Homo sapiens: one gene and its partners. The protein of the gene in region 1 purifies or fractionates together with the protein of each later gene. This does not show direct contact. Each region holds a gene or a part of one and is shown in the gene's direction. Other genes may lie near its edges.

The links.
Region 2: the proteins of ADPGK (region 1) and UGT8 purify together in Homo sapiens (affinity purification with mass spectrometry; 2 studies listed by BioGRID and IntAct, with this or other methods). This does not show direct contact.
Region 3: the proteins of ADPGK (region 1) and PRXL2A purify together in Homo sapiens (affinity purification with mass spectrometry; 2 studies listed by BioGRID and IntAct, with this or other methods). This does not show direct contact.
Region 4: the proteins of ADPGK (region 1) and TIMP3 purify together in Homo sapiens (affinity purification with mass spectrometry; 2 studies listed by BioGRID and IntAct, with this or other methods). This does not show direct contact.

The regions. Positions count from the first base shown.
Region 1 is NC_000015.10:72,780,651-72,788,359, reverse strand, and holds the start of ADPGK (ADP-dependent glucokinase isoform 4 precursor), read left to right. Parts: upstream 1-4,601; 5' UTR 4,602-4,668; coding exon 4,669-4,901; exon of another isoform or gene 4,902-5,525; intron 5,526-7,709. UniProt on the Homo sapiens protein: Catalyzes the phosphorylation of D-glucose to D-glucose 6-phosphate using ADP as the phosphate donor. GDP and CDP can replace ADP, but with reduced efficiency.
Region 2 is NC_000004.12:114,601,731-114,608,879, forward strand, and holds part of UGT8 (2-hydroxyacylsphingosine 1-beta-galactosyltransferase precursor), read left to right. Parts: intron 1-7,149. UniProt on the Homo sapiens protein: Catalyzes the transfer of galactose to ceramide, a key enzymatic step in the biosynthesis of galactocerebrosides, which are abundant sphingolipids of the myelin membrane of the central nervous system and peripheral nervous system.
Region 3 is NC_000010.11:80,404,270-80,411,668, forward strand, and holds the start of PRXL2A (peroxiredoxin-like 2A isoform 1 precursor), read left to right. Parts: upstream 1-4,281; 5' UTR 4,282-4,374; exon of another isoform or gene 4,375-4,763; coding exon of another isoform or gene 4,764-4,799; intron 4,800-6,724; exon of another isoform or gene 6,725-6,802; intron 6,803-7,399. UniProt on the Homo sapiens protein: Involved in redox regulation of the cell. Acts as an antioxidant. Inhibits TNFSF11-induced NFKB1 and JUN activation and osteoclast differentiation. May affect bone resorption and help to maintain bone mass.
Region 4 is NC_000022.11:32,797,546-32,804,851, forward strand, and holds the start of TIMP3 (metalloproteinase inhibitor 3 precursor), read left to right. Parts: upstream 1-4,159; 5' UTR 4,160-4,456; coding exon 4,457-4,577; intron 4,578-7,306.

The DNA.
Region 1 (7,709 bases):
AATACATAAATAAGAATAATTTTTCATAGAACTCTACTCACTAAAGATATTATAAAAAGAATGAATAGACAAGTGACTGGGAGGGAGGCAAGATACTTGCAAATAACCAACAAATGGAAACTTGTCAAAACCACAGTAAGATACCACTACACACCCTACAAAATGACAAAGCTTTAAGAATCTGTTGGAGTGTAGCTGGAGCAACAGAAATTCTCATATGCTGCCAGTGGGAAGATAAACTGGCATACCACTTTGGAAAGATGTCAGATATTATATAGTAAAGTTGAAGACAGGCATATCATATGACCCAGAAATGTTACTTTGTTTCTACCCTGAAGAAATGGCTATACACGTGTACCACAGCATATACATAGCAACACTGTATGTAATAGTAAAAAAACTGGGAAAACTCCAAATCGTCTATTCATAGTACAATAGATAAATTTTAGTATTTTCATTCAGTGGGATATTACATAGATGCTAAGCCGTCAAAAAATAGAAAAGGCTACTGCATAGTGACCTATGCAGAAATGGCTGTCTTCCTTATAGTAAGAGAGTGACAGACCAGCAAGAAAGACTAAAAAGAAAATTAAATATAGCTCTCAGAACCAACCATAGCAACAGCAGGGAATGTTTTGAATTCCAGCATGTAGCAGACACTGTGCTAGACTGTCTTAAGATAACTCTACCTCCCACAACCATTCTGCAAAGTAGGAATTATTTTGCATATAAGGAAACTGAAGAACAGAAAAGTTAAATGACTTACCTGAGGGCACACAGATAGCAGGTGACAGAGTGAAGATTTGCAGCCAGGAATCAAATCCCACCTTCTTTCCATTGAAGTATGAACTGTTGATTGCAGCAACCATTCACCACCCCTCCCTTCATCCAGAACCCTGATTTTGTTAAGATGTACTGCCTCTTCCGTGCTGTCCACCCTAGGGATGGCAGAGCAAAAGACAGAACAAGCATGGGCCCCTGAGGACTCTCTCTGGCAATGCTGCCAGGCCATCCCAGTTAGATGTTTTTGCTTCCTTTTATTTATTTTTCCTTTATTTTAGTTTTAGGCCCAGTGGTTGTAGAACTGCTAGGGTTCTTGAATCAAAAAGAAAATGTAGTTAGAAGGCAAACTTCCCATTTCCTTCCAAACCATTGCAAGTAATACTGAAACCCAAACCAGATCACTACAGCAGATGCTACAAGGGCTACAACAGGACTGGTTTACGCAGCCTGCAGAAGAGAACCCAAGCAGGAAGGCCTGTGAGTGTAAAGGGCTCCAGCAGGCAGCCTGGTAGCAGTGTTCCGGGAAGCCTGAGATGGCTAAGAGCACTGTGAGGGTGGAGGCCTCTGCTTTATCCTGCCCCGATTCATTCGCCCTATGAAGCTCATAGGTCCCTGCCAGACAGAAGCCCACACAGTCCTGTGCCTCCTGCCTTTCTAGGCTCAGCGCTTCTTCCTGGTCCAAAGCAGTTAATTTCCAAAGTGAAAATTCCGGGCCACTATGTTGTCACATCCCCTCAAGCTACAACCCGGTTCCCAGTCTGTGTAGGAAGTTCTATTACTATCAAGAAACTCTCATGTTCTTCTTACTGCTTTGCTGCTGACGTTCCTCTCATCTGGCTCCTGTGCCTCAACACCCCTGCCTCTCCCCTGCACTGGCCAGAGGCAGTCCATCCTCTGAGCACTTCTAGTCCCCTCCTGACCTCACATTAGTGAGGAGGATGTCTGATTGCCAAGGGCTATGGCTACAGACACAAAGCTTTCTCTTTTCGGGGGCTGGGATCCTTTATTCCATCTCTTCAATCTCTTTGGAGTTTTCTGTAATCTTCAAAATTGTGCTCTGACTCTGGCCTTTGGGCATGGCCTGTGGTGGGCTGTGTCCCTGGCATCAACAAAGGCTTTGACACAGTGTGGCCTTCAAAGAGCAGCTTGGATGAAACCCCAGAGGCCTGGAGCTGCAAGGAAAGTGGGTTAGCCCAGCTTTCACAGGGACCATTTGGTCCCACTTTAGTTTCTGCTCCACGTGGGAACAAATGTGCCCCTTAAGGCCTTTCAGATTGCGGGGGTGACGCTGATGGGTATTTATGTTAAAGCCAAAACCTTCAGCTAATTTGGAAGCTGACAGGATTCTGCTAATTCTTTGTGTTCATACAGGATCTGCTCCCTGGCCTTCCAGGTCAGGATCTTGGGTGGGGCACCTGGAGCCTCCATTTGCCTCTGAATTTTCTAGAACCAAATTGCTTTTCTTCTCTCATTTCAAGGTCCTAGGAGAGAGAACCAATAGGAAAGGCCATGTCTGGAAGCAATTTGGGTGGGGGCGGGGGGTGTCTTGAGGCCTGCCCAGCCCAGCCCTTTCCTCTTTGTTCAGCCTAGGCAAAGGAGCCACAGCTGCCCACTCAGAGCTGTTTTAATTGTCCCCAGAAACCTAACTTCTAGAAAAACAATTGGCTTGCAAAGGATTCCAGACTCTCTGAACAGATAGATGATCAGAATCTTTTCTGATTTTCGTTAAGGAAATATTTCAAGAGGGACTGTGGCACCAAGACAGTGAATGCCTGCCCCTGAGCCCCGATGAGAAGGAATTAAGGGCCCTGTGACTCTGTATGTGACCAGAAGCCACATCAGGCTCCGCCAGGCCTGGCAACTGTCCCTGGTGTTCTGTTCTTCACCTCCTGCGGCTCCTGACTCTTCAGTTCTCAGTTGGAATTGAGGTCAGCTCTCTCGTTTCCTTGTCTGGCCCCCTTCACCACCCACAATGCAAACCCACACTGAGTGACTAACCAGCAAGAGGCCCACAGCAGGTCCCATAGCAACCAGAGGGGGCCAAGCTTGCTACCACAGCCCACAACATGCCAACACCCCATTTAGACTTTTACATGAGAAATAAACATCCACTTTGTTCAACTGCTGTTGTTTTGTCTCTGTGACTAAATCAACAATTCTGGCAAATCTAGAAAGAAGCAGAAGAATTAGGTGCAAAGTGCTGGAAGTTTAGCAGCCTCTCGTGGGAGCAAGAAAGCCCCAGGCAGGTTTCTGTCCACATCACTTTAATGTGGAGCACTCTCCTAGTCCTCTAGATCTGTCTGTTCTATCACCTTCCCACAGTTCAGCTTCCTGTGCTCCCCAAAACTTCACCTTGGAAACATATTTAACTGGTTCTGACCTTTAGCCTTGTGTGACTTTGTGGGTCCACAGCCAATATCAAATAACTACAGACAACAGAAACTTGGTTAAAATTCTCAATAGAGGGAAATGATCGCTGGACAGTCAGCAGACTCGCTGTTTTCAGGTCAGCTGCTGGCTCAGTCCCCTCTGGGTGCCAGGGAAACCTGACAGCTGAGGGTTGTGAGAAGAAGCAGTTTCTCTAGGAACTGACTGACATGTCTCCCTAAGGAGAGAGAAGTGACAGGCAACTCTAGGGAAGATGGCTTTCATGGCTTCATAAAGATCTGACTGGCTCTTTGGCTTCTTTTCCAAGGTAGCCCAAATCTGTTCCTGTGTGAATATCTTTGTCGAAAGGGATGGCATGGTCAGGTAGGCTGGGTAGGATGAACTGCGGGAAGGTAGATGACCAGGATGGGGAAGTTCTGATGAGGTGGGGCTGAGGAGAATGAAGACTAATGCCCAAGATCAAAGTTAGGGAAATAAAGTTTCGCTGCCAAGTCCAAAGGTCAGGGTCACAGTGGAAAACTGGACACAAAGCCAAGGTCAGGAGCCGAGAGAATTGGAAAAGTGGAAACAAACCAGGGAACAAGACTAGGCCGGGCATTGTGGCTGATGAGAATGAGCTGGTACCCAGCCTAGCTTCACTGTCTCTCAACCTAGCCTCATGCACAGAAAAGTATCAGCGAAGAGAGGGCTGGGTTTAAGTGATGTCACCAAGGGGGAACAAAAGAAAGCAGCGTTTCTCAACCCAGGTCCATAACTCTCGTGTTGTGCACAAGATTGTGTACATTTTCCAGAGTTTGTTAAAGGGAACAGCGCCCCCAAAAGGGTTAAAGTTTGATTGTGGAATAATCTGGTTATCCAGAAGAGAACGATCTCTGCGGGCTCTCCTGTCTCGACGAAGTCCTTTAGTGGCTGAGGGTCTCGGCCACCTTCCAAAGGGGCGGAATCCCCCTGCCTCGCGTACCCCAGGGGTCTCGGCAGCGCCGCTATTCTGTGAGCCTATTCCTCTCAGAAGCGCCGAGCACTAGGCCTGGAAGAGGACAAGTCTAGCAAATGAGGGGACACGGGCGGAGGGAGGGATTAAAAGATGGGGGTGTGATCCGTGCCAATGGGGACACCCACTGGTTCGAATATTAACGCGAGGTTTGTCCGCTTCTTCACAATCTGTCCGTTTCGTTTTACTGCGAAAGCAAATGTGTTCCCATCCCTCTATTTGGGGATACGATTAGAGTTCCGGGAAGGGGGTGCAGCGCCCGGACTGGCACAACCGCCGTTGTCCCACCTCCTCCGGGGCGGCAACACCGCAGTGCCAGGCCTGGGACTGAGGCGTGGGGTCCCCCCTCGCTCCGTCCTGGCGCCGCCCGTCGCCCCGCCCCTTGGGGGGCCCCGTGGCGCACCCTTGTGACGTAGCGCTTGTGTCGACATCGGCGCGCGCCGAGCCCGGAAGAGGCGCGGGCTAGGAAAGGAGTTGGTTCGCGCAGGTGCGGCGCCTGGGTCCCCATGGCGCTGTGGCGCGGCTCCGCGTACGCGGGCTTCCTGGCGCTGGCCGTGGGCTGCGTCTTCCTGCTGGAGCCAGAGCTGCCAGGCTCGGCGCTGCGCTCTCTCTGGAGCTCGCTGTGTCTGGGGCCCGCGCCTGCGCCCCCGGGACCCGTCTCCCCCGAGGGCCGGTTGGCGGCAGCCTGGGACGCGCTTATCGTGCGGCCAGTCCGGCGCTGGCGCCGCGTGGCAGTGGGGTGAGTGCCAACGGGGCCTGGGTCTCTGAGCCTCCGAGGTCGGCCTTGGAGGTCGGGCGGAGCCGCGCAGAAACAGGGCTTCTCAGAGGTCCCCGGGAGGCGCTGCTGTCCGCGCTGGCCCCTTGGCGAGAAGTGTCGGACGTCTGAGTGGAACCCGGTTCGTCACCGCTGCTCTTTCCACTCGGCTGGCCTCTGCGCCTTTCTCTCATCCCGGTAGGACCAGCCCTAACAGCTTCTTGCTAATCCCGCTTTGTCTGACACCTTTCTCCGAGCCTTCTTCCTCGTTCCAACTTTTAGCCCCTTCTCTTCTGGCGACTGTTGTTTTGCAATCAAAGATACTTGACCTTACCCACTATGACAACACTCTTCCTCTTTCTTCTGAACTTCTTGAAGACGCGTGATGTCTGCCTTTACCCACTTTCGAAACGCCGTGTAGTCTAGAAACCACACGACTGTACTGCAACTCCTCTCAGATTTGCCTTTTTGAATCTTCATTATCTACTCTGCAGCCTTCCACGCATTGAACACGCCCTTCTCCGTGAAATTCTTTTCTTCCCCTGACTTCAGTGACACTGCATATTTAAGGTTCTTCCAAATGACACTACCTCCTTTCTTTGTACTTTTCCTTGGGAATGTAATTATTTTCTTTATAGTATTGATACTGTAAACACTAACTTTAGTCCCTGTCTCAGTTCGATTTGACTTTCTTGCCGTAATCTCAGAGTTATGTATAACCACCACATAAAAGCAGGCCCTCTACCATGTAGCTCACTACTTTCTGTGGAGTGTTGGGGCCGGGAGGGGTAAAGTAGAGCAAACTTGGCCTGAAGATTAAATGACATCATTCATGTAATCTCTCTAGCATAGTGCCTGCTTTAAAAAGCATTCGATATTAGCTATAATTTTGGGGTTTTTTTTTTTTTTTTTTTTTGGACACAGGGTCTCTCTCTCTGTCGCCTAGGCTGGAGTGCAGTGGTGCAATCACTGCTCACTGCAGCCTCGAACTCCCGAGCTCAAGAGATCCTTCTGCCTCAGCCTCTGGAGTAGCTGGGACGACAGGCAAGCACCACCACGCCCAGCCAATTTTTTATTTATTTTATTTTTTTTAGTAGAGTCGAGGTCTTGCTATATTGCCCAGGCTGGTCTCGAACTCCTGAGCTCAAGCCAGCCTCCCATCTTGGCCTCCCAAAGTGCTGGGATTAAATTGTCCTTCCTTGCTTTATGCGCGTTCATTCAGCAGATATTCACCAACTACATGGTTAGTGTCAGGTCTGTGCTAGGTTCTTAAGATACAGAGATGGGTGAAGCAAGGCCCCTGTCTCACTTGTTGGAAACATATTATTGTATCAGTCATTTGGGCTGCTAGAACAGAATACCACAAATTAGGTGGATTAAACAACAAATCTGTTTTCTCGTGGATCTGGAGGCTGATAGTCCAAGATCAAGGTGTTGGCAGGATTGGCTTCCGATGTGGCCTCTCTTCCTAGCTTGCAGCCAGCTGGCTTTTCAGTTAGTCTGCGCATGTACACTCCTGGTGCCTCTTATTCTTCTTATGTGGACACTAGGTCCTTTTGGAATAGGGCTCACCCGTATGACCTTATTTAACCTTAACTACTTCCTTAAAGGCCCTACGTCCAAATATAGTCACATTGGGAATTAGGGTTTCAGCATATGAATTGGTGGGGGGTGGACAATTCAATCCATAACAATTATGGTTAGAAGAGGAACAACCCACGAGGACCAGGCAGAAGCCTTAATGCCTTTTACGACCTTACCTTAGAAGCACATAGGAACTCTTCTACCAGAGTCACAGGTCCACCTGGTTTTAAGGGAGGGGACATAGAACAAACCTTGATGGGAGGAGCATCAGTGTCACATTGTGAAAAGAACATTTGGAATGGGGCATCTTATTGCCACCATCTTGGAAAATATATTTTACTACAGTGACTTTCATAGGACAGACACTAAATAAATGAGATTTCTTCAAGCCAAAGTGGGAACAGGTCCACCTAGGCAAGAGAACCAAATGTGAAAAAGTACATGGTTTGTTTGGGAACAGGTCGGCCTTGTTTTGGAGCGAGAATCCTATGGTAGAGGGTTGTAAAGAGATGATGCTGAGAACGAAGGGTTGGACCAGATTGTGAAGGGCCTTTTATGGGGAAGCCATAAAGGTTTGTAAGTAGTTAACTGATGACAAGTTCTTTGTTGAGAATTGGTGGGAATGTGAAGGGTGGATTTTGAGCAGTGGTTCTAAACTGTTTCACTGCTTCTCATCATTTATTACCCAAAGAGGATTTTTAGCCCAAAGATAGGGGGATATAGGAGGGATGAGGGGGAGCAGGTGTAGTACTTGTATCAGAATCTCATTTTGAGGTTGTAGTTTGACTTCTCTAGAGACACACTCGTATTCACACTCTCTGTCACACAGACACACTCAAAATGCCATTTAATGTGATTCATAAGGAGGAATATCTTGACATCCTGACACTGGTTTAAGAGGCCATTGTAGGGTTTGTGTAAAGGGAGAAAGGAGCCCGAACCAAACTCGGCAATGATGTAGAAGAGGTGAGATTTGAGAGATAACCTGAATAATAGTTTGGATGTGGTGGAGTAAAGAAAGGCAGTCAAAAACGACAGGTTTTTAATATTGGATATCTTGTTTAGTTTTTGTTTTCTGTTTGAGACAGCATCTCACTCTGTCACCCAGGCTGGCGTGTGCAGTGGCATGTTCAAGCTCACTGTGGCCTTGACCTGTCATGCTCAGTGTCCCGAGTAGCTGGAACTACAGGCATGTACCACCACACCCGG
Region 2 (7,149 bases), on another chromosome or scaffold:
GCTGAGGTGTATAGAGCTGTTTTTGTTTATAGTAAATGGTCTCAGCCTGCTGGGTTGAAATACTAGAATAGAGACAGAAGTACCATTCTTCTTTTTATGTTTTTTTTTTTTTTCTGGGTCCTCTTTCTGTTATTGGCTATCACTTTCTGCTGCTGTCAGACTGTGAGTGGGCCCTGCTGCTCTATTATCTGTTGTCTTTTTTTCCATCAAATGATGTGGGCTATTGCCCGAGTGTAAATCCTGTAGACTTTGTGACAGACACTTTCAGTTTACGTGCTTTATTTGTGGTTTGGACTGTGAACTGAAATGTTTAGGTTTCCAGAAGGGTGACCTCTATATAAAAGGTTTTAATGTACCTTTTATAGAAAAAATTTGTGTATGAGATCTTTAGGAGGGTGTATTAATTTCAGACAATTCAGTCTTCTGGAATATCTTGGTGTTTCTGAGAAACTGAAGCAGCCTTTAAAAAAAAGTTTACTTTCTTATGATAGGCCCAGATCGTCTTTGTTTAGGAATATGTATACTAGAATATTTTACATATTACTTTCTGCCATTGAAACTTACTAACTATAATGTAGTGTAGTTAATATTTTTCTACCCCGGAAGTCCAGAATAAGAAGTATGATTTGAGAATCCTGCTAACCATACTTGAGGCTACATGAATTATTTAAATATTATTTTGCAAATCTACTTATGGAGGAGGTACATAATCAAATACATATGATTAAAATGGTTTAATTTGATCTTGAAAACAGTGGTAATCATATCTCCTTAATCTGAAGCATTTCACAAACATTCATTCTTTTATTCAACAAATATTTGTTAAAAGCATACTGTGTGCCAAGCACTGTGCTCTGGGGATGTGCATACAATTAAGGCCCTGGGAGGGCTCTAGGTTTAAAAGGGGGAGACAAGGAGGAAACAGGCTATTTTCAATATCTACAGTATAGTGCTGGCTGTTCTGTAAGTGCCGTGATAGAGATACACACACAGTACCCTGAGCAGAAATTTGGAAGTGGTCAATTCTGTGTGGGGACAGGAGATTTGAGGGTTTCTTAGAGGGTGACATAAAAGATGAATCACTGGAGGCAGGAGCAAGATCATGGAGGGCTGTTTGCCATTCTCAGGAGTATGGACTATTTTCAGTTTAAGGTTGTTTTAAACAGAGGAGCTATGTGATGAGAAAACAGCTCTTACAGCAAGCAATCTAGAAGGATGGATCTGAGGAATGTGAGATTTGGATGGTAGTTTAGAAGATATTGGGGTGGCTTTGGTAAGAGAGGTTGAGGTCCTTGTACCAAAGTGTTGGCAGTGGGATGAAAAAAAGGGGTTTGGTTACAACGATATTCAGGTGGTAGAACCTCTAAGATTAGGTGACCAATTTGGTTGGAGGATTGGGAGTGGGTGGTATAGGAGGATGGGATGGGAACTTAAAAGGAGATCCAGATTTGAGAGCAAGAGTGATAGAGTTCAGTTTTAGACATGTAGAACTTGAAGTGCTTATAGAAAATCGAACTGGAGATGTGTGTCCAGTGAATCATTGTATGTGAGTTCTGAGCACAGAGGTCCTGGGCTAGATAGGCAGGTAGATAAATGGTAGGTAGATAAATGGATAGACACACAGAAACATTTAGGAGTTTTCAGTGTATAGGTAATTATAAACCGTGAAAGTTGATAGGTTTTCCAGGGCAAGTACCAAAAGTTAATAGGGAAACAGAGGCCTGGGGAGATCCTAAAATTTAAGAGTTGGGTAGAGAAATAGGAAGCAATAAAGAAAAACGAGAAGGTACAGAACAAGAGAGGCAAGAGGAGAGTTAGGAGGGTGTAACTTTTAAAAGCAGCTGAAAACTGAGAAAATTTCAGAAAGTGAGAAGGTCAGGTACTGAAATGAGGGGGTGTTAGACAGTCTCGGTTCCCACCCCCTCTCGAGCCCCGAATAGCTCTGTGACCTTGAGCTCACAATTTAGTTTCATTTCCTCATTTAGCAAATGAGGGGAGAAGCACCTACTTTATAGGGCTACTGTGAGGATCAGATGAGATAAAATCTATCAAGCACAATGCCTGGGAGGTTACTCCTTTGTGTTTAACAAATGCTACCTGTTTTATGGAAACCAGGACTTGGATTTGTGATTAGAAGGTCCGTAGTCATTTTTGCTTTCACAAGTACTCGCTCTCAGAATTCACAGAGAGTGATTGAAAATATATTTTTAAGATGAAAATTTGATCATACTTTTAACTTTTTTGGTTAGAGGCCAGTAGAATAGCAGCCATTGAAAGTTTTGAAGGGAGCAGAGGGAGCCAACTGAACAAAAGTCCTTGAAGAGAGAGTGGAAGTTGCCTCAAGAGCGTTGCAGAGATGTTGGGTTTCTCAGGACAATCCATGCTTCCGCCAGTCAGGAGGGTCTGGTGGCATATGCATTGTGTTTAAAAAGCACCTGGTAATTAAACCTCCAGGTTTCTAATGTCTTGTTTAAAGTACTCTTAGTATTTTAAGTGTGTTCTAGTTCCTTAGATAATCTATAAGGACATTGATTATACATTTTAGTATTAGCTGAAAATAAACTCAGAAAACAATACAGATGATTTCAAAATTTAACAAAATGTAATTTAATATTTGATGATTCCAAAGGCACCTCTATACCTCATAGGGTCTTAAAAATCAACATGTGAAAAATAATTATTAGCCTGTGTAATAGGGGAAGGACTGATTTGTAGAGGTTTGTTTGCTTTTTTTTTTTTTTTCCCCCAATTAAGACTACTATGGTAATATTTAAATATACCTACTTTTTTCCTAGGATTTTCTGTTTGGATGAAGTGATGCTTTATATTAGAGATTAATAAACATTTTAAATTAGATTTCTATTTTAATATGTGTATAAGTTTTTTACTCTGTAATTACTGCATAATTTGAGAAAATGTTTACATCTATGCAGTGGTTTGGAAGTCAACCAACAATTGCACATAGTACATATTGTTTACTAATTGGTTATAAGGCATATAATAAATATTTGTTGTCCCAATACATGTTTGTTGAATAAAACAAAATTAGATATTCCATATTTTTAAGATGAAATGAATTTTATATCTGTAGTTTTAATATTTAATCATATTCTTTACCTGAAAATCGCTAGCCATACTTTTCGTTTTCAGCACTTCTCTATTTTGCAGTTGTGTTTCAGTGCTTTTTTTTTTCCCACTGTGCTTAGTCCTTCACGATTTATGGCCCTGTTATTTGTAAAGCATAGTAATCTAAGCAGGTGATTTTCAGTTTAGGATTTCTTCTAGTTCCATGTTGTATATTCACCAAGTCAGTTTTAGACTATATATTGTCATGCTCAGCACTCCCTTACAGAGATAACAGATGCCAAGTTGAAATTGACTTATACAGAATGCCACACTTAGGTAAGTGTTTAGGAGTGCATAGCCAAAATAAAAATGGTACCTTTGGTTTATGAATGGCAGGGCATCTAGGACAGTGTAGGTCAGTTCGTATTCTCTGGATGGACATTTATGTAAATATTAAAACATTTAGATTAGATGGAAAGATGTATAGTAGGAACATTTCAGAGATACTGTTTCCTTGTAGCATTGTACTATTTATCTGAATTGTTAATTTGGAATAATCACTATATTGATTTTATTTTGAAGATATAATTTATTTCCATTGACTTGATATAAATAACAGAAATGCATCTGCAAGGAATCCAGTTCATTAAAGAAATTTACATTCGTATCTGATTTGGTAAATATGTGCTTGATTTGGGAATATTATATAACAAAATATTTGTGAAATCATTTTGTACTTTTTAATTGTTTTGAAGAAATTTAATACTCAAAATATTTCAAGACACCAAATCATGACTTTTTAGTTATTACATTAAGCTATAACTTGCTTTAATGAGTAAAAACTGTGGGGCTAATTTTCTTCCAAGTGAAACATCAAGTTTAAATAATGTGCACATGAATTTACAAAGTAGAATCAAGTGTGCAAATATGCTATATGTTCTGTAATAGGTTCTTGAAAAGCTGTATATAAACTCAGCTTTTATAAGTTGAGTCATATTTATAGAATAAGAAAATAGGGCAAACATTTAACACTTCTTAAATATTAAGTGATGGGCATACAGATGTTTGTTATGTTAATCTTTATATTTTTCTGTATGTTAGAAATAGTTTACAGAAAAAAATTGTGGTTAGTGACATTAAAGCACATTATATATTAAATATACTCAGGGACTTTGAAATTTAAAGCAATATCAACATACAATTTACCATAGAAAAAATCCTATTCTGATTTTATTAATACCTGTTTTGCAAATTCAGAATTTTTAATGGGTTTAATTAAGCAGATACACACACAACAACAACAACAACAAAAAACTTGGACACACTTCTGTAACACATCTTGAATATAGTCTCATCTGTTGGAATTTTTTAAACTTCTACACTTAAGTCTTAATCTGATTCTCCCTCATCCTCATAATATTCATTATTCAGAGGAGAGGCATCAACAGGAAGAATTCAATTTTACTTAAATAAAAATTTTTTACTAGCAACGGAATGAGTGATTCAGTGGTGGTGTCTTCCTGCTTTGAGAGAGCTGTTCTAAGACTAGGCAGTTAGTCTTAGGCCTAAGACTAGGCAGTTAGTCTAGGGGCTCCACAGCAGGCCCTTCCTCTGGGTTCTCTTTATGAAGAAGGCCTTTGTGTTTTACATAGATTTTGCATTTGTGCTGCTGTCCCTATTGAGTTGTTCTCACCAAGCCAATCTGGGGAGTAGCTCTTAGGGGAAAACTAGTCAAACAGGTTTGCCTGTCTATTCAAAAGGAGGGAAGAACGGTGAAATGTATGGATAAAGGCCAAGAGTAAAACTGTTTTAAGTAATATTCATGCTAATCACTGACTGTTGGTTTTGAAAATACTTTGTAGACATTTGTGAGAATGTATCTTAATGGAGATAAAGTAAGAGAGAAACTGGAAGGGGAAGTAGTTTAGAAGCAGGGGATAAGGACAAGATGGGGAGAAGGAAGGGAAAAACAATGGAGGCAAAATAAGCTCAAGAAGGAAAGAATAGTGTTTCAGTGTCATATCTGGGCTTTATGTAAACTGGGTGTGTTATAGCAGGAAACCATGGTATTGATCTGAGAATGAATTTAATTAAAACAAACAAAAAACCCCCACATGCCTGTGATCCTCAATGTCCAAAATAGGGAGCGTCTTGCCAGGGCAGGGCTGAAGTTTACTAGGAATATTGGTGGGAAAATGTTATAGTTAACCATCTCTGATACTAATCTTATATTAGAGATAATACTTGGTTTCCCCTAGTAAAGTGTTAGAGTCATACAGCTTTATTGTAGTTTGCAAATCTATTACACATATATTTCTACTGTTTAGTTCTCATTCTGCCCCTGAAGCATAGCCCTATAGGTAGTAGCATTTTACAGCTCATAACTTGGTAGAGTCCCAAGTAACCTTTGGAAGTCAAAATGACAATCCAGTCTGGGGAATTTGATGTTAAAACTAAAGCTTCTTGCCTAGAACAAGTTTTGGAACTATAGCTCACCACCTGCCTCATGTTCTGGGAATGCTGAACCTTGATCCCACTGAAATTACCTTTAAGTAGTCTTTCTGTAGTCCTCAGTAATCTCCTCCTTTGCTCCATGCTTCTTCCCTGCTCCTTGAGAGTTCCTTCTCCTTTCTCATCTGTAATGGTAACTCCCCATCTGATCTTTGGTTGTGCCTCTTCTTCCTTCCTGGCATTTTTATTAACATCTTTTGTCCCAGCACCTCTCCTCTTCTCTATTCTCACTCCTTTGGTGTAGTTATTCATGCCCATAGACTGGATTTTTATTTATATATAGATGATTCAAAAAGCTGTATTTCTAATTGTGATTTCTTCTATACTCTCAAGAGCTTAGAGTTCCCAGCTCAACTTCCTAACTCAGATCTGACATCCCCATTTGCCTCAGTCTTCGAAGACAGATTTTGGTGTTGTGGAATTCACTTTTTTACCCTTTATATCTAATCTATTCCTAATTGATCACTATGTCCTTCATGAAGACCTTCTTCCCTTGCCTGAGTCTTTCCATTCACCTCCTGATGTCTTGGTGTAGTCCCACATCACTTCTTCACCAGTGGTACTAAATGACTCATTTTCACCATTACCTGGGCCTTCCATCACCTCCTACTGCCCACAACCATCAGTCACTTGTCCTTACTGACCCACTTGCCTTCTTTGAGTGTGATTTGACTATGCGTTTATTTTCACATGGGGATCCAAAATTTTTAGCATGGCTTTCGAGGCTGTCTATTGTCTAGCTGCTTTCTGATCAGACTTATTTATTTTCTCATATTGCTCAATAGGATTCTATCCTGTTTACCCACTGGGGCATTCATTTCAGGATATCCCCCCGCTTGAGATGTCCTGCCTTTTTTTTCTTCTGCACTTCCAAATTCTCACCCAAGGTTTTGACACTCAAGTCCCACCTCAGACTGTGGCTTCCCAGTCTCTGTCACTTTTCTGTGACTTTGATTTGTACATATATTGATGTTAGCAATTAGGTTTCATTCTCCCTCTAAGGAGAGTATGAACTCTTAGAGGGTGGAGTCTCTTGTCTCCTCATACACCTTGGACAAACACTATTGATCAGAGAGAAGATATTCAAACATGATTGAATGGTATCTTTAGTTTGTCATGAGGCAATAAGGGTAAGTTTCCTAATTTTCTATACGTATTTTGATTTTTTCCTGTTGTTTTTTCCAGAACTGCATCATTCAAACTTGAAACATTCCCCTATTTTTTTTTAACAAGGTGTTCTATATAGGAACAACATATCTTATAGGGATTGCTACATTATTTAGTCACAATGGAAAAAAAAGTTTGATATATAGAAAGATTATATAATAGTTACATGGAACTCTACTATAAAATTATAATGGTTTAGTGGGTTTTCTTTTTTAAATTTACCTGGGGCTTCTATAGGTGGATGTGCATTCACAACTAATTCTAGGTAATGCTAATAAAAGAAAATAATCACGGTGATAATTAACTGTATTTAGTTTTTATTTTGTATTTACATTTCAATGTAAGTATGCCTAATGTCATGAAACCATAGTTGGAGAAAATAATGATTATATGCATGAGGAAGAT
Region 3 (7,399 bases), on another chromosome or scaffold:
CTGACCTCGTGATCCCACCGCTTTGGCCTCCCAAAGTGCTGGGATTACAGGGGTGAGCCACCACGCCCGGCCTCTATTTTTTTAAACAGTAAAATCTTCTAAAATATTACTCCAAGATTTGACACTGAAATGAAAAAGTTTTTGCAAATGCAGAAATTCATAAAATCAGAGCAGTGGAACATAAATTTGATATTAGTAAAGCAACTTTTGTTATCAGAAGAATTACTTCATTTTCCTATATTCTTGCAGAGCAACAATTGAGACACTTATGGAACCTAAGAAAGCTATACATACACACACAAATGAAGTCTATTATGTTTTGCTATTGAGAAACACACAAAAGAATTGTAAGGCACTGGAAAAGTTGCCAAATCTCTTGAAATGGATAAAAGGAATTCCAAAGCAATGAAAGGTTGGTGTCATCAATTCATTTGTTTTGAAGGACTATCATTAAGATGTCAAACATCTTTTTGTCAAAAACTTCTGCTGATGTTGAGCAGAAGGCTATATGGAGCACCCTTTAAGAAATGCTGTGTTACCAATGTTTCTAATGGTCAGAGGATAATATTGTGTGACAAATCCAGAAATCAGCAACTCTAAGTCTAAAAATAGTAAAAAAACAAAAAAACAAAAAAAAAACAAAAAACGAAAGAGTTGGGCTTTGAATGTGAAGATATCTAAGGAATGCCTTATCCTGTTCATTTCACTTATATTTTTTCTTTTTAAGTGTGCACACAGGGATAGATGAGTTGGGAATGAACCTAGACTTAGAGTGCAGTAGTACCCTGGCCACAATGACTGGCCAATCAGTATGAGGATCTGGGTTTTGTTCACTCCTTAGTCTAACTGCCCCTTCCCCATGTTGGATCCTAGGAATCATCCTATGACCATAGGGAGAACCATCCTTAATATGAAGCCAACACATGGATAATGGCAGAGAAGCAAGAGAACCTCGACTGTTGATGACATCATGAAACCACAGGATCACCTCAAGGCAACTGGAATTGGGTTTTCTGTTAACTTGCAAATCAAAGCTTCCTAACTGAATAAAGACTCAGTTAATGTTAGTTGGTAGTGCATGCAATGATGGTTGAGGACACTTGAGACAATCCTGCTTTCTCAACCTGGGGGCAGAATAATACCACCATCTAGCCCTCAGTCAGCCATCGGTTCACCTGGTAAACCATTGGCCACATTTATGGAAGGTTTTAGAAAGAGGTCCCTATTGACTTTGCTTTGCTTTGAGACACACTGTGGAAGTATAGGATTTTTTATGCTTAAAACAAATAAGAAAGAGCTGAATTCAGGGATATTGGCATATAGAGAAAATATTTGAAGCTGATCTATGCACATCTATTTTTGAGATTCACATACAAGTCTTGTTCTTGATTTCGCTTTTACCCATCCACAGAATGGTAACCTGGGCCTGACATATTGAAGTGAAGTATCAGTTTTTGCTCTATTTTCATCTTGATGCTAGCTGCTTCCTGACTGTTCCCAGCGAGCCCAGACACCACAGGGCCATAAGCTTAAAAAGATCATGTTACTTCAGTCACTGCTGAGTAGCAGACGAAGCTGAAGCCAGCTGAATCTAGAAGTGCTATGACGCTGAAAAAGTCAGGAGTCTTTACCCAGATCTGCCTCCTGCAAGCAGTGTTTTCTGCCTGCCCTATGGGACTTGTGAGGGACAGAAAAGTTTCCCAGCCCCTGTCAAGATGGTAACATTATCTAAAGTTATCACAAAGCTTCTAGTCAACCTTAATTTCTACCACCTGAAATTCAGAACCTAAGGCTATTTTACAATCTTTACAAAATTTAAATTATTTTTCTCTTAAAAGCTGGGCAGGTTGGTGGGTTTTCTTGGTTTATTCTTCAGGTTTTTTGTTTTGGTTTGGTTTTTGGTTTTAGTCCTTGAGCTTTGTAAATAAGTTTTCCTGCGCCTGCTTGCCTGTAACTTATTTTTCTGGTCTAATGACTGTTTTTTAATGAGTTCAGCCTGTGCTTTCTTGTACAAAAAGAAACGTGGGCATGTGAGGAGCATATTAATTAGCTATCAGATGTAGCCTGGTTTTTGAAGTCCAGATCTTCAGGATGTTACCGAAGTGTAAATATAAGCATGACTTTTGCACGTGATTAGTAATTACATCACAGTTAAAGCCTCAGGGGACCTTCCACCCCAGAATTCTGCTATCCTCAACCCCTGAATGGCTCTGTCATTAATGGTCAGTCTCCAAGAACTCATTTCCCAAGGAAATGACTTCCTGTTTTGTTCTAAGTGGCCTTCCCTGCAAACCCTCCTCACCTTTGAACTTCCTATTTTGGGATGGAAAGATTGACCCTTCTCCCGCTCCTCTTCACAAGGTAAGGAGAAACAAGGGAGAAGAAAGAAAGGTCCTCTGGAGAGAGATATATGTATCATACATATCTTATACATATATCATATATATCTTATATATCTCATATATATCTTATATATATCTTATATATCATATATATATATATATATATATATATATATATAAAACTACACCCGCATTGCACCAAAGTATACGAAATATTTTCTGGCCTTCAAATCATATGCCTAACTCCTGCAGGAAAACTGCATGGGCACTCAGGCTGATCTCCCTTACCCCACAACTTAGATCCACCTCTCACGTTTTCTAAGTTTATTTCCACGCTGTCCCTGGGCCAGGCTCTAGGGTCCCAGAGGTGAAGTGGAGGAATTCACAGTTTGGTTGAGGAGAGACCCCCTTGAATAGATCAAGCTCCCCAAGTGTTGCTGTAAGTTTACATGGAACATGGAGTCTGAGTGGGAAGTCAGGGAGGTGAATCACGGAAGCCTTTGGACTTTGTACACCTGTGGGCAGCTCCCAGATGAAGGGGGGAAGGTGTTGCAGGCAAATGACCACCTTTGACGGGCGGACATCGGCCTGCTTTGCCACTTCACCTTATGCTGCCCTGTGACTGGTCTTTGCACTGTGTCACCGATATGTCTTTTTTTTTTTTTTTTGAGACGGAATCTCACTCTGTCACCCAGGCTGGAGTGTAGTGGCACCATCTCGGCTCACTGCAACCTCCACCTCCGGGGTTCAAGCTATTCTCCTGCCTCAGCCTCTTGAGTAGCTGGGACTACGGGTGCGCGCCACCACACCCGGCTAATTTTTGTATTTTTAGTAGAGACGAGGTTTTGCCATGTTGGTCAGGCTGGTCTCGAACTCCTGCCCTCAAGTGATCTGCCCGCCTTGGCTTCCCAAAGTGTTGGGATTACAGGCATGAGACACCGAGCCCGGCCAACCACTAATATGTATCGTGAGTCAGCTCTGCTGTCTCTGAAAGTCCAACCTCCTACTTTTTGTTTTTTGTTGTTAAGACAGGGTCTTTTTTTTGTTTTTTAAAGACAGGCTGGAGTGCAGTGGCGCGATCTGGGCTCACTGCAACCTCCGCCTCCCGGGTTCAAGCGATCCTCCCACCTCAGCTCCAGAGTAGCTGGAAATACAGGCACGCGCCACTATGCCTGGCTAGTTTTTGTTTTTTACGTAGAGATGGAGTCTTACTATGGTGCCCAGACTGGTCTTGAACTCCTGGGCTCAAGCGATCCTCCCAAAGCCCTGAGATTACAGGCGTGAGCCAGCGCGCCGGACACAACCTCCTACTTTCATGAAAGAGTGGGCACTTCCAACAGGAGGAGTAAGTGGATGAGCGGTGTGTGACACACCCGCCTCAGCGTCGCCCGGAGTCCGCAAGGCTGCGGCTCACCGTTCTCTGCCCCATAGCTGGCATTGTGGAGTGAAAGGGAACGTGGGTGGAGGATTGAGGTTGGAAATTCTGAATCTGTACATACAGCTTGAAGGGGCTCATCGAATGTGTCGGTCCTTTAGATTCCCCCTGCCCATGGAGGTTAAAAAAAAAAAAAAAACCTATCAAAAGAGCTATTCAAAACCAGGCTGAAGATTGGAAGGAAGTTGGCCAGCCTCGGCTGCAGGACAGGTGCTTCCAGGCTCCATTAGGGGTGTCCAGCGCCTTCTTTTGCCCTAGGCAGCGCCCTGAAGAACGCGTCGGGGCCTCGGTTCGCGGACTTGAGGAGTGGACCGACCGAGCGCTGTGCGTAAAAGGACCGCTGGGGCACACGCCCGAGCGCCACCGGAGCTAGGAGACCGCGGCCCGGAGGTCGGCGAGTCGGGGGCAGGCCCGGAGCTCCTCCCACGGGGGGCGGGGCGGGTCACATGGCGGTGGCGCGGTAGCGCGCGATGCAGCACAGGCTAGAGGCTGCGCAAGCGCGGGGCCCGCCCCTGGGACCCTCCGGGCCGGGCGGTTTGGCCCCTTAGCGCCCGGGCGTCGGGGCGGTAAAAGGCCGGCAGAAGGGAGGCACTTGAGGTAGGTGCTGCGCGCCGGGGCTCCGCGAGGCACGTGATGTCCGTAGGCGGGGCCTGCCGCGGCGTAGGTGGGGAAACTGAGGCAGTGCAGGGCCGGTAGGGTGGGTGCTGGGCTGGTGAGGCGCGCCCCTCGGGCCCGCGCCAACTTTCTTAGGAGCCGCCGCAGCGCTGGCGCTCCCTCCGAGGACGACGACCCTTCCGCCACCCTGCGTGGCGGCCGATGGAAAAACCCTGCGCCCAGACGTCGGAGAACGGAGACGGGGACCCGGCGCTGCTGCGGCGGGCTAGGGCCCCCTCTGTCCACGCCCGCAAGCCTTGAGTGACGCCGGTGGCGCCAACCTTCGCGAATTGTTGGGACAAAGAACAGAGGAGAGGGCCCTGCCCTGGAGCATGGGCCCGGGGGCCGCCCTGCTGGACCAGCCCCAGGTGCGGACCTGGCAGTCCTCGTCCTCGTCTCTGTGCCCGCTTAGGGTCGTGTCTTTTAAGAGGGCACGGTTTCTAGCGTTGTTCAGCGTTTCGGAGGCACCTGTTCCCCCTCTTTCCCAAGAGTCACAAACGCCTGACTTTAAATTGGGTAGAGCCCAGTTGTAAACTTAACAGCCCTGCTGAGGTCTAGGAATGAAAAGATGAACAATCTGCCCCCAGGGTTGTTGCTGGAGCGGGAGGTGAAGGCGCAGGTGGAGATGGTTAGAGGCAAAGGAAGGGAAGTCAAGGCCCAGCCGGTCCAGGGCTGTGGGAAGGAGGCACACCCGGGAGTCCACTGCCGGACCGGGGTTCCCAGCTGCTCCTGCGCCTCTTTTCCTTGCCACATCATGCTGTCTGCACAGCCCAGCAACCCAGAACTCAGCTTTTTTGTTTGTTTTATTTTAATGTATTTTCCTTTGAACCTGGCAGGTGGTTTTTCAAAAAGAAAATAATCAAGATTTGTTTTGAAAAGCATTGTGAAAAAGTCAGCTTGAATAGTCTTGAATGCTCCTGCTCGGGCCCAGCTTTGGAGAATGAGGATTGGGATTTCCACTGCAGACCCCGACTCGTTACCATACTCATTCATCAGAAAACTCTTCATTTTGTGTACAAATAACGTTTTGAGGGTAATCATTGCTCTAGAAATGAAGAATTATACATCGTATTTATTGCACTTTTTGTAAGGTACCTCACAAGGCACCTCCTATACATTTAATCCTTTGATTCTTGCAACTCTGTAGAAGGTAATTAAGGAAGCATTCCCATTTTACTGATGCAAAACAGTTCCTTGTCCAGGTTTATACAGCTTGCAAGAATTAAAGTTAGATATTATTCTTGGTGTGGGCCTTTCCTATATCCCCGTCTTTTATAAGAGCATGTCATTTAGTTGAGACCTTCTGCATTACTTCTGAAGGGGTACAAAAGACATTTCTGATGATTTTCTCATCTCGTGTCATTTAAATGGTGCTCAGAAAGTTTGGATAGGACTGGAACTCTAGGGCTCAAGCCCCAGGCTCTGTCCCTATCTAAGCAATAGGGCAGCTGTCCTGCCAGTTGGGTTCTTGCTTCTTTGTGAAATGTTGAGCAGAAGCTCCAAGTCTCTCTGCTGTGGCTTGTGTGGCAAGAACCATCCTGAGGTTCTGTGCAGAGAGCCAGCCTCACCTTTGAGCTCAGTGGCCTCTGGCACAGGGAAATTACAGCTGGGCAGTGTCCTTTGCCTTCTCTGGCACTGCTAGTGCAGGAGGCAGTGTTAGCTGCTACAGGAATAGCATGGAGCGGGCCTGCAGGCCAGAGGGGCTGAGACAAGCCAGTGTTCCCACCAGACCTAGAACGTTCACCAGAAAGCAGGCCTGCAGTGACACAGCTGCAGAAGTTCACTATTTTGTGCCTGTCCTGCTTCAGATATCCTGTCTTTATAGGGGCACGAGTGAATCTGAGCCCTGCAAAAGAGAGAAAGATAATGCTGCTTTGCCGTTTTCTAGTGCGTTACCGCATTAAAAATTGCTCTTCTTATATAATCTTTATGACAACTCTTTAAAGTGCCCTTGTTTTTAAGAAGACACTGAGGTTCAGAGGGATAAAATAACTCTCAGAGTCAAAGAGAGAAAACCCAGGATTATTGGCTTTTAGCCCAGTGTCTTCTGTGGTATTGCCTTGCCTTCCTATCCACACCCATATAACTTGATGAAGCCGGAGTTCTGAGCCCAGACAGGAGGCTGTGCAAGTGAGATTAGAATGGCTTGCTCTTTGAGGGGTGGGGGGCCCTACAGCTTGAGGAAACAAGAGGACATAATCAGCTACTGGGAAACCCTGAGATACGCCCAAGAGTGAGGAATGTGGGGGCTGGTGCTGCTTTCAGCATCTATTCAGAGGTTTCTGAATCTGGCATTTGAGAGTAGGACTGGGCCAGAACCAGGCAGATACACACCCCAAGGAGCAGGGCTGAGAGTTGGAGACTGAGGCAGGTAGGTGAGAGCTCATTGCAAGTGACTGATTTTGTGGTATATGAAGACAAGGGTGGGTGGAAGGGCATCTGTTGCTCATAAGGCTCTGTGTGCCTGCATCATCAGTATGCTAGACAAGGATGGACAGAGTCTTGTTATTGTGGGGAAGAGAGGTGCAGAATGGCTTCTCAGCGGAGACTAGGCAATGAGACCCTTAAGACATTTGGCTTCAGATTATAAGCTGCTTACCAAGGATTGGGCTTGGGAGAGGCTGATGATGTTCTCTCCAGGCAGCAGATTTCCCAGGCCCTGTTTACGGGCAGTCTTGCTCTTAGCTTGCCTGAGGCCAGTGAACAGGCTTCAAGACCTGCAGGGCCCCACTTCCTGAGCCCAGACTGCCATGCTATTCCAGCCTTAGAGGCCACTGGCCCTTGGCTGGCTGCCCAGGACCTAGCGTGTCTGATGCAGGATAAACAGTCATGGACTGGAAGTTGGGAGACCCAAACCTGAGTCCCAGTGCAGCCACTGACAACCTGCCCTGCCCATGTGACCTTGGACTAGCCAGCTCCTTCTCTGAGCTTTAGTTTCTTCATTTGCTCAGTAAAATGAGCTGAACCA
Region 4 (7,306 bases), on another chromosome or scaffold:
CCTAACTTTTTAGTGCTACGATCCAAGAGACAAACAAGCAGGTGAACGCATAACTACACTGGGCTCCACCATAAGCCAGAGCCTGTCTCTCCTAGGACTTTGGCATCACAATCTTCTCTGAAATTCTGTTTTCGGCATTGATTCTTGGGGGAGGTAGCAATATAGGAACTCAGTGTTCGTTGCGAAACTGATGGATGGTCTTCAGTCTTGGGTACGTTCCCATGTGTCAAACCTGTTTAAATGGCAGGACCCATCTCCCCTTCAGAAGCATTCACTTGTCCTACAGGATTCCCCATGGAATCTTGGAGTTTTTGAGGCGAGAGGGATCCTGGATACCACTGAGTTCTATCTTTCATCCAATAAACACAGAAGTGGACGCCTGGACAGGCAAAGTGACTTGACCAAGGCAGGTGCACAGCTATTCTGCAACATTGGGAACAAATCTCAGGTCTTTTGATTTTTTGTTTCCACTTTACTCTCTTTTCATTTCCCAGAAACAAAGTTTTCATGTGCTTTTTTTTATAGTGATATGTTTGGAATGCATTAGCTAGTAATTTAGGAAGGGAAAAAAATAAACACACAAGAGATAAACCTGTCAGGAGGACAAACCTGTATTGCTTCTGATTGGCTCAGAGGGTGATTATTATCATGGTAGAGAATTATTTAATCAGTGTAAGTAAAATTTCTCTGTGGGCTGGGCACTGTACAAAGACTCAAACGAATCTGTCTACAGATCTGAAAAGCAGATACGAGATCTGTGAATGGCTGGGGTTTCCAAGCCCACAGTACAAGCATGGGCCACACCTTACAGCTTGGAGGACTGAGCCCTGAAAATGGGCAAGTTCCTTCACTTCTCTGAACCTTATTTTTCCCACATTTAAAACAAGGATGAGTAGTTTCTGAGGTCCTTTTTACGACTTCTCTTCCTACAGACTCTAGCATCCTATAACTTGATACAAAGAGGGTGGATATGAACTCACCTTTCCTAGAAAAGTTCCAGGAAAGAGAATACCAGGTCATCCTAGTAGGTGTGTAGACAGGCCAGATAGATCTTGAAACTTACTCAGTTCTTCCCAGATGTATAACTCTATCATTGTTCTTAGCTGTCAAGAGAAAGCAGGAGAGCCTGCATCTTCATTCTTTTTTTTTTTTTTTTTTTTTTTGGAGACGGAGTCTCACTCCATCACCTAGGCTAGAGTGCAGTGGCATGATCTCAGCTCACTGCAAGCTCCGCCTCCCAGGTTCACGCCATTCTCCTGCCTCAGCCTCCCAAGTAACTGGGACTACAGGCGCCCACCACCACACCTGGCTAATTTTTTGTGTTGTTAGTACAGACGGGGTTTCACCATGTTAGCCAGGATGGTCTCGATCTCCTGACCTCGTGATCCGCCCACCTTGGCCTCTCAAAGTGCTGGGATTACAGGCGTGAGCCACCGCACCCAGCCTGCATCTTCATTCTTACTGTTAGCCTCAGGTTCACCCCACCTAGCTTATTAAGTGATGTTGAATAACCAATTCTTACATATTATTAGGCTCATGGACACCATGACATCCAGACTGATGGGTGCCTGCTGAAGGGGGTGACCCTAGCAGGAGGACTCCCCTACGCAAGGATTCATGGAGTTTGCTGTTTCTTTTCCTTAGGGTGAGAACCAAACTGCCTTCACACGGTGGGCAGAGGGGAACTGACTCAGGTTTGGAATAAGAGAGAACATCCCAACTGAAAAGCTCTTGGAATTCGCTGAACTTCAAGACACTGTGTGGACCAGCTTAGGATAGGGAGTGAGAAGAAATTAACCAAAAGGTAATTTCGTTACTTTTCAGCTGGAAAAAAGATCAGATTATACTTGTGCTTTCATAATTAAGTAGCTGCTGGAAAAAAACGCTTCAGATGCTTTCTATGAGAAAACTGCTGCTTGAAGTTCAGCAGAAGTTATCTACTTGATACTTATATTCCAGGCAAGGCCTTCCGTTGGAGAAAATATCGGCACTTTGGACAAAACTGAAATGTGAAAAGAAAGGGAAGAGAGGGCCTCTATCATGTAAGATGCTTATCCAAAGTGGATTTGGTCTGGAAAGTCTTCTAAAACCTTCCACATGACTGTGGAATAAGTCATGTGGGGCGCGGGGATAAGCGAATCTCTCAAATTCCACCACGTATGCCCTCATTCAACCTGGATCCTTAGAGTGGCCTCCAGGGCACTCTGCTCAGGACTCAGTCAGCTGTTGGCCACACCCATGCTCTCCAGTCTCCTGAGACCCTATTTGGTTCTGAGAGGGCTAAAAAGCAGTGTGGCTAAATATCCCAGGCCTCAAAGTATTCCTACTGTGGTTGGGGAAGCAATAGAATCATACCCCATAAAACAATGAAAACAGTGCTAGAAAAACATCGAGAGACAGAAACATCTCTACGAGTTAGGCCACAGTTAGAGTGAAGGCAGGGAAGGTTTTTAAAGCTGGGTGGAGGGGACAAGTCAAAAAGATGTGGAAACTGGTTTCCCTTTCCTATGGCTAAAGTGCTCAAAGGGGAAAAAGGAGTTTCAAAAATGTTCTTGGAAATACCATCTCTCACGAATTCTTCGGCCTCTGCTGTCCCAATGTCACTTGTCTGAGATGTAAACAGAGGAGTTCTGAGAAAGAAGCTGAACTTGCATTTCTCCCTGTTTCTATTTGTTCCAAACTTGTGGCATTTCTAACAGGATGAAGCGGAAGAGAAAGGGAAAGAGACAAAAGTGTAGAAAGATGGAAGATCCCAGCTGCAAATGGCCATTTGCAGTTAGATGGAACAGCTGCTGACGTTCAGGGAAATGCATGTCTCTCTTCAGATGGGAAGGAGCAGTGGAAAGGGGTGACGAGTTCCTGGCTGGCCACCAATCATCCCATCTTTCTGTGCCGGTTCCTCATCTGGAAAGTGGGAGTGATACTTGTGCTTGCTTTTCCTACCCACAAAGATTATTGTGAGAGCTATAATACGGTGAGATACAGAATCCTGCTTTTAAAAATACAAAGCAGAATCAAGATGTCAATAATAAGGATAGTAATTGTGTTAGTTATCTGCAATCATCTATTATAGCTAGTCGTCTAGGATCCTGGATCGTTCTCCTGGTTTTACTACAGTTTTGGATCAGCTCACCCCCAAATCCCTTGCTGAAGGGTGGAGCTCTGTCAGCCATGGGCAGGGAACCACTTCCTCTTGCCTTTCTACTTTCTGTCTTTCAAACATGCCCAGGGTCTTTGCACTTGCTGTTCCCCCTGCCTGGTACCTCTCTCCTGTGGCTTGCCCCAGAGCTGATCCTTGTCTTTGTCCACTTCTCAGCGAGGATGGCACTTCAGGGAGCCCTTCCCTTACTATCGCAGAGAGAGCAGGCCCTCCCCAGTCATGTCCAACCCAGAACTCTGTTTTGTTTTCTTCATAGCCCTAGCATCACAGAAAATCACCCTGTGCATTCATGGATGTCCACGGGGGCAAGGGCTTTGTGTTGCTTAACCCAGCATCCTGAACCGTGTTTGTTGAATGAATACAGAACCCCGTTTGCTCTGGGAGAGCACAGAAAACAGTCTTCTATCATATATCATAGCCAGCTGCAAACAGCAGATGGCTTCCCATATCCCAGAGAGTAAGAACCAGAGAGAGAGAGAAAGAGAGAGAGTTTGGGTCTTTCTCCTCTGTGCCTGCTCTCTCCAGAGAAACTGGAGGGGTAGCAGTTAGCATTCCCCCGCTGGTTCCACCAAGCACAGTCAAGGTCTCTAGGACATGGCCACCCCTCACCTGTGGAAGCGGTCCTGCTGGGGTGGGTGGGTGTTAGTTGGTTCTGGTTTGGGTCAGAGACACCCAGTGGCCCAGGTGGGCGTGGGGCCAGGGCGCAGACGAGAAGGGGCACGAGGGCTCCGCTCCGAGGACCCAGCGGCAAGCACCGGTCCCGGGCGCGCCCCAGCCCACCCACTCGCGTGCCCACGGCGGCATTATTCCCTATAAGGATCTGAACGATCCGGGGGCGGCCCCGCCCCGTTACCCCTTGCCCCCGGCCCCGCCCCCTTTTTGGAGGGCCGATGAGGTAATGCGGCTCTGCCATTGGTCTGAGGGGGCGGGCCCCAACAGCCCGAGGCGGGGTCCCCGGGGGCCCAGCGCTATATCACTCGGCCGCCCAGGCAGCGGCGCAGAGCGGGCAGCAGGCAGGCGGCGGGCGCTCAGACGGCTTCTCCTCCTCCTCTTGCTCCTCCAGCTCCTGCTCCTTCGCCGGGAGGCCGCCCGCCGAGTCCTGCGCCAGCGCCGAGGCAGCCTCGCTGCGCCCCATCCCGTCCCGCCGGGCACTCGGAGGGCAGCGCGCCGGAGGCCAAGGTTGCCCCGCACGGCCCGGCGGGCGAGCGAGCTCGGGCTGCAGCAGCCCCGCCGGCGGCGCGCACGGCAACTTTGGAGAGGCGAGCAGCAGCCCCGGCAGCGGCGGCAGCAGCGGCAATGACCCCTTGGCTCGGGCTCATCGTGCTCCTGGGCAGCTGGAGCCTGGGGGACTGGGGCGCCGAGGCGTGCACATGCTCGCCCAGCCACCCCCAGGACGCCTTCTGCAACTCCGACATCGGTAAGCGCTCCTGGTGCCCCGCCCGAGCCCCACGCTGCAGCCAGGACTGCAGCGCTGCTTAGGGAGGCAGGGCGAGCCCCACTCCTTTCCTCTGCCCCAGGAGAGGGGCAGACGGGGTTGGGGCGGAGTGGAGAAACTCGATGTCCTTGGGCGGGGGCGCTGGCATAGCTGAGAGGGGAAGATGCCCTGCAGAGGAAACTCACAGTGGCTGAGGGAGCCCCTGGCCGCCTTTGCTTTCCTAACTTAGGTCGTGAGGTTCCTACCGGTCCTTTTGACATCTGGAAAATGTCCCCATTCACTACTAACGGAGGAAGGGCTAGAAGAGAAGGGTGGGGAAAGGGTTCCCAAAACTTGGAATGCTAACTAAAGTGCTGGGAAATTGAATAGTTAAAAAAAAAAAAAAAAGTTGCCCGCCATGTGCACGGAAAGTTGCAGGAGAAACTTGGAGTACTCCGAGTCTGCATCATCTCCTGCGCCTATGAAATTCATTCTTTTCACTGAGACCCAACCCAGCTGCAGGCTTCCCAGGCAAGCGCTAACCGAGCTTCTGGGACTGCCAAGTTTGGGTGGATTTAAGGGGGAAAATGAGGAGAAAGCTGTGGCATTGACCCACGCCCTGGAGGCACTGTGTTTGAGAGTGTTGATAGCCAGCAGAAGGTGCGAGGGGTCACTCACCACATAGCTGTGAAAATTCACAGGAAGGCTATTTTTTTCCCCCTTGAATGTGTGTGGGGAGGGGGAGAATGGGTAGTGGAAAACAGATTTGTCACCAAAAGAACAAACCTGCCAAGGGTCACATCACGGTGACAGTTCCAGACTGGACTTAGTGTCTTGAGTAGAGAGACCCTGTAAAGAGACCTCCTACTCCTTAGTGTGTATGGAGGGCCCCGAGAGCATCCTGGGAGGCTTGTCTGGGAGTGTTTGGGACACTTGTGTTTGGATGGCTAAAGGTGGAGTGGCATCTGGGAAACATCTCTCTCCTCCTTTCCAGCCCATAAAGCGTGCAAGTCCAGTGGCTCTGCTGGGAGAGTGTGTGTGTGTGCACTGGGCTGGGCTGGGCGGTGGGGTGGGACAGCCTTGCCGCCCTCTGCCTGTGTCGATTCAGAGGTGAAGAATGGAGCGTGTGTGTTTTAAGTACAGTCATAAAGGAGAAGGAAATTTTCCACTGAGTCTTGGGTGAGGGACTCTACCAGCGTGTTGTGGTGAGGAGGGGGAGGAGGTAGGAGCTTGGCAGGGGAGGCAGTGAGGGCCGGGAGGGGCACTGCTGGTGGGCTGGGCTGAGCCTAGAGGTCAGAGTGGGGGTGTGGTGACCAGAATGTCAGTGCAGTTGGCAGCTGAGGGTGTTTGTGTGACCTGAGGTCACCCTTGTAAGAGGCTCCCTGGGGCCTGCATGGTACATCCTCCCCTCTCCTGGGGGAACCCAGCTGGCCCAGGATTTGTGGATTGCTTAGAAAGATCCTTTTGGGCAGCCTGAAGACTGGGGAGGGTTTTCCTCCCTCCTCCACCTCCACCCACATTCCACTTACCCTTTCCCTCCTCATCCCAGTTGGTAACATTCCCACCTGATTAGTGTGGGGAGTTGCTGCTGCAGCTGAGTTCTGGTTTTGCCCAGCAGGATCACACACGTGCGGCCAGGAGGCTGGCAGGTGGAATCAGGGTGTGCAGGGGTGCAGCCCAAGTCCTTTTCTGCTGGAAAATGGGCTGGGTGACTTCACTTGCGTTTTTTTGGTATGTAGTGGGAGTAGGTCCCCATTCTTCCCCCTTGCCCTTTGCTTTGGGGTTTCTACCCTAAAAATTGACCACGGAAAAGTGAAAACAAGCATGAGTAGATCCTGCTTCCAATGGGGGCCTTCCCGTCTGCTTACTGCTTAGGTTTCCTGCGGTGGGTCTGAGCAATGCAGAAAGTTTCTTACAATTTCTCTGGATTGAAACAAGAAATAGCTCCCTCGCTCCTCTTCATAAATTTCTCAGAGAAAATCTAAGTTACCAGGAAGTAGCCAAAGACCAGGAGATTGTGGAATCAAAAAGAAAAAAAGAAACAAAAAATCTTCGATGCTCTGGCACGGATCCCAAATTGTTCTGCCTGGGTTTGGTGAGCTGCACTAGTGGCAGGGATGAGCTAATGCTTTTAAAATGGGAGGTGTGGGTGTGAGCTGCTTGCCTGCCGACCTCCCTCGCCTTGCACAGCACCCTGCTGGCGTCCAGTACTTGGCTCCCAAGTTTCATTGCTCAGAGCCTTTCTGGTTTCCAGTCTGGGTTGAAACTGTCTATTCTCGCCCTCAAACAAATATGAAGGAGCTCCCCATTCCTTGGGACCCACACAACCCCACCAGTCAACTTTGTAGCCCCCTAAAGGTGTTCACATCAGCCCATCAACTTCCTGTTTTAAAACCATCATGGTGGTTTTCTCTTCATGGCTTGGTGCCATGTTGGCCTAGCAAAAGGCACAGGAGGCCTGGCCTGGTCCTCTCCGGGGGGCTGCCCGATGGCCTTTCCTCCTGTCTCTGCTCATCCACAGGTGTCTCTTTTTGTCTTTTTTCCCCAAAGTCCTAGGGCCTGGCATGGCATTCTGGGGGAGGAGGAGTTAAAAGGTGTTTCTATGGCAACTCCAGGCCCTGCACCCTATGGAAGTGTTTAGGAGAAGAATAAACTACATGCCGGCTTATAAGACACACTGTGGGGGAAAGAAAGGGACTTGGCAGCAGGCAGGATGTCTGTGGTCCCCCTCC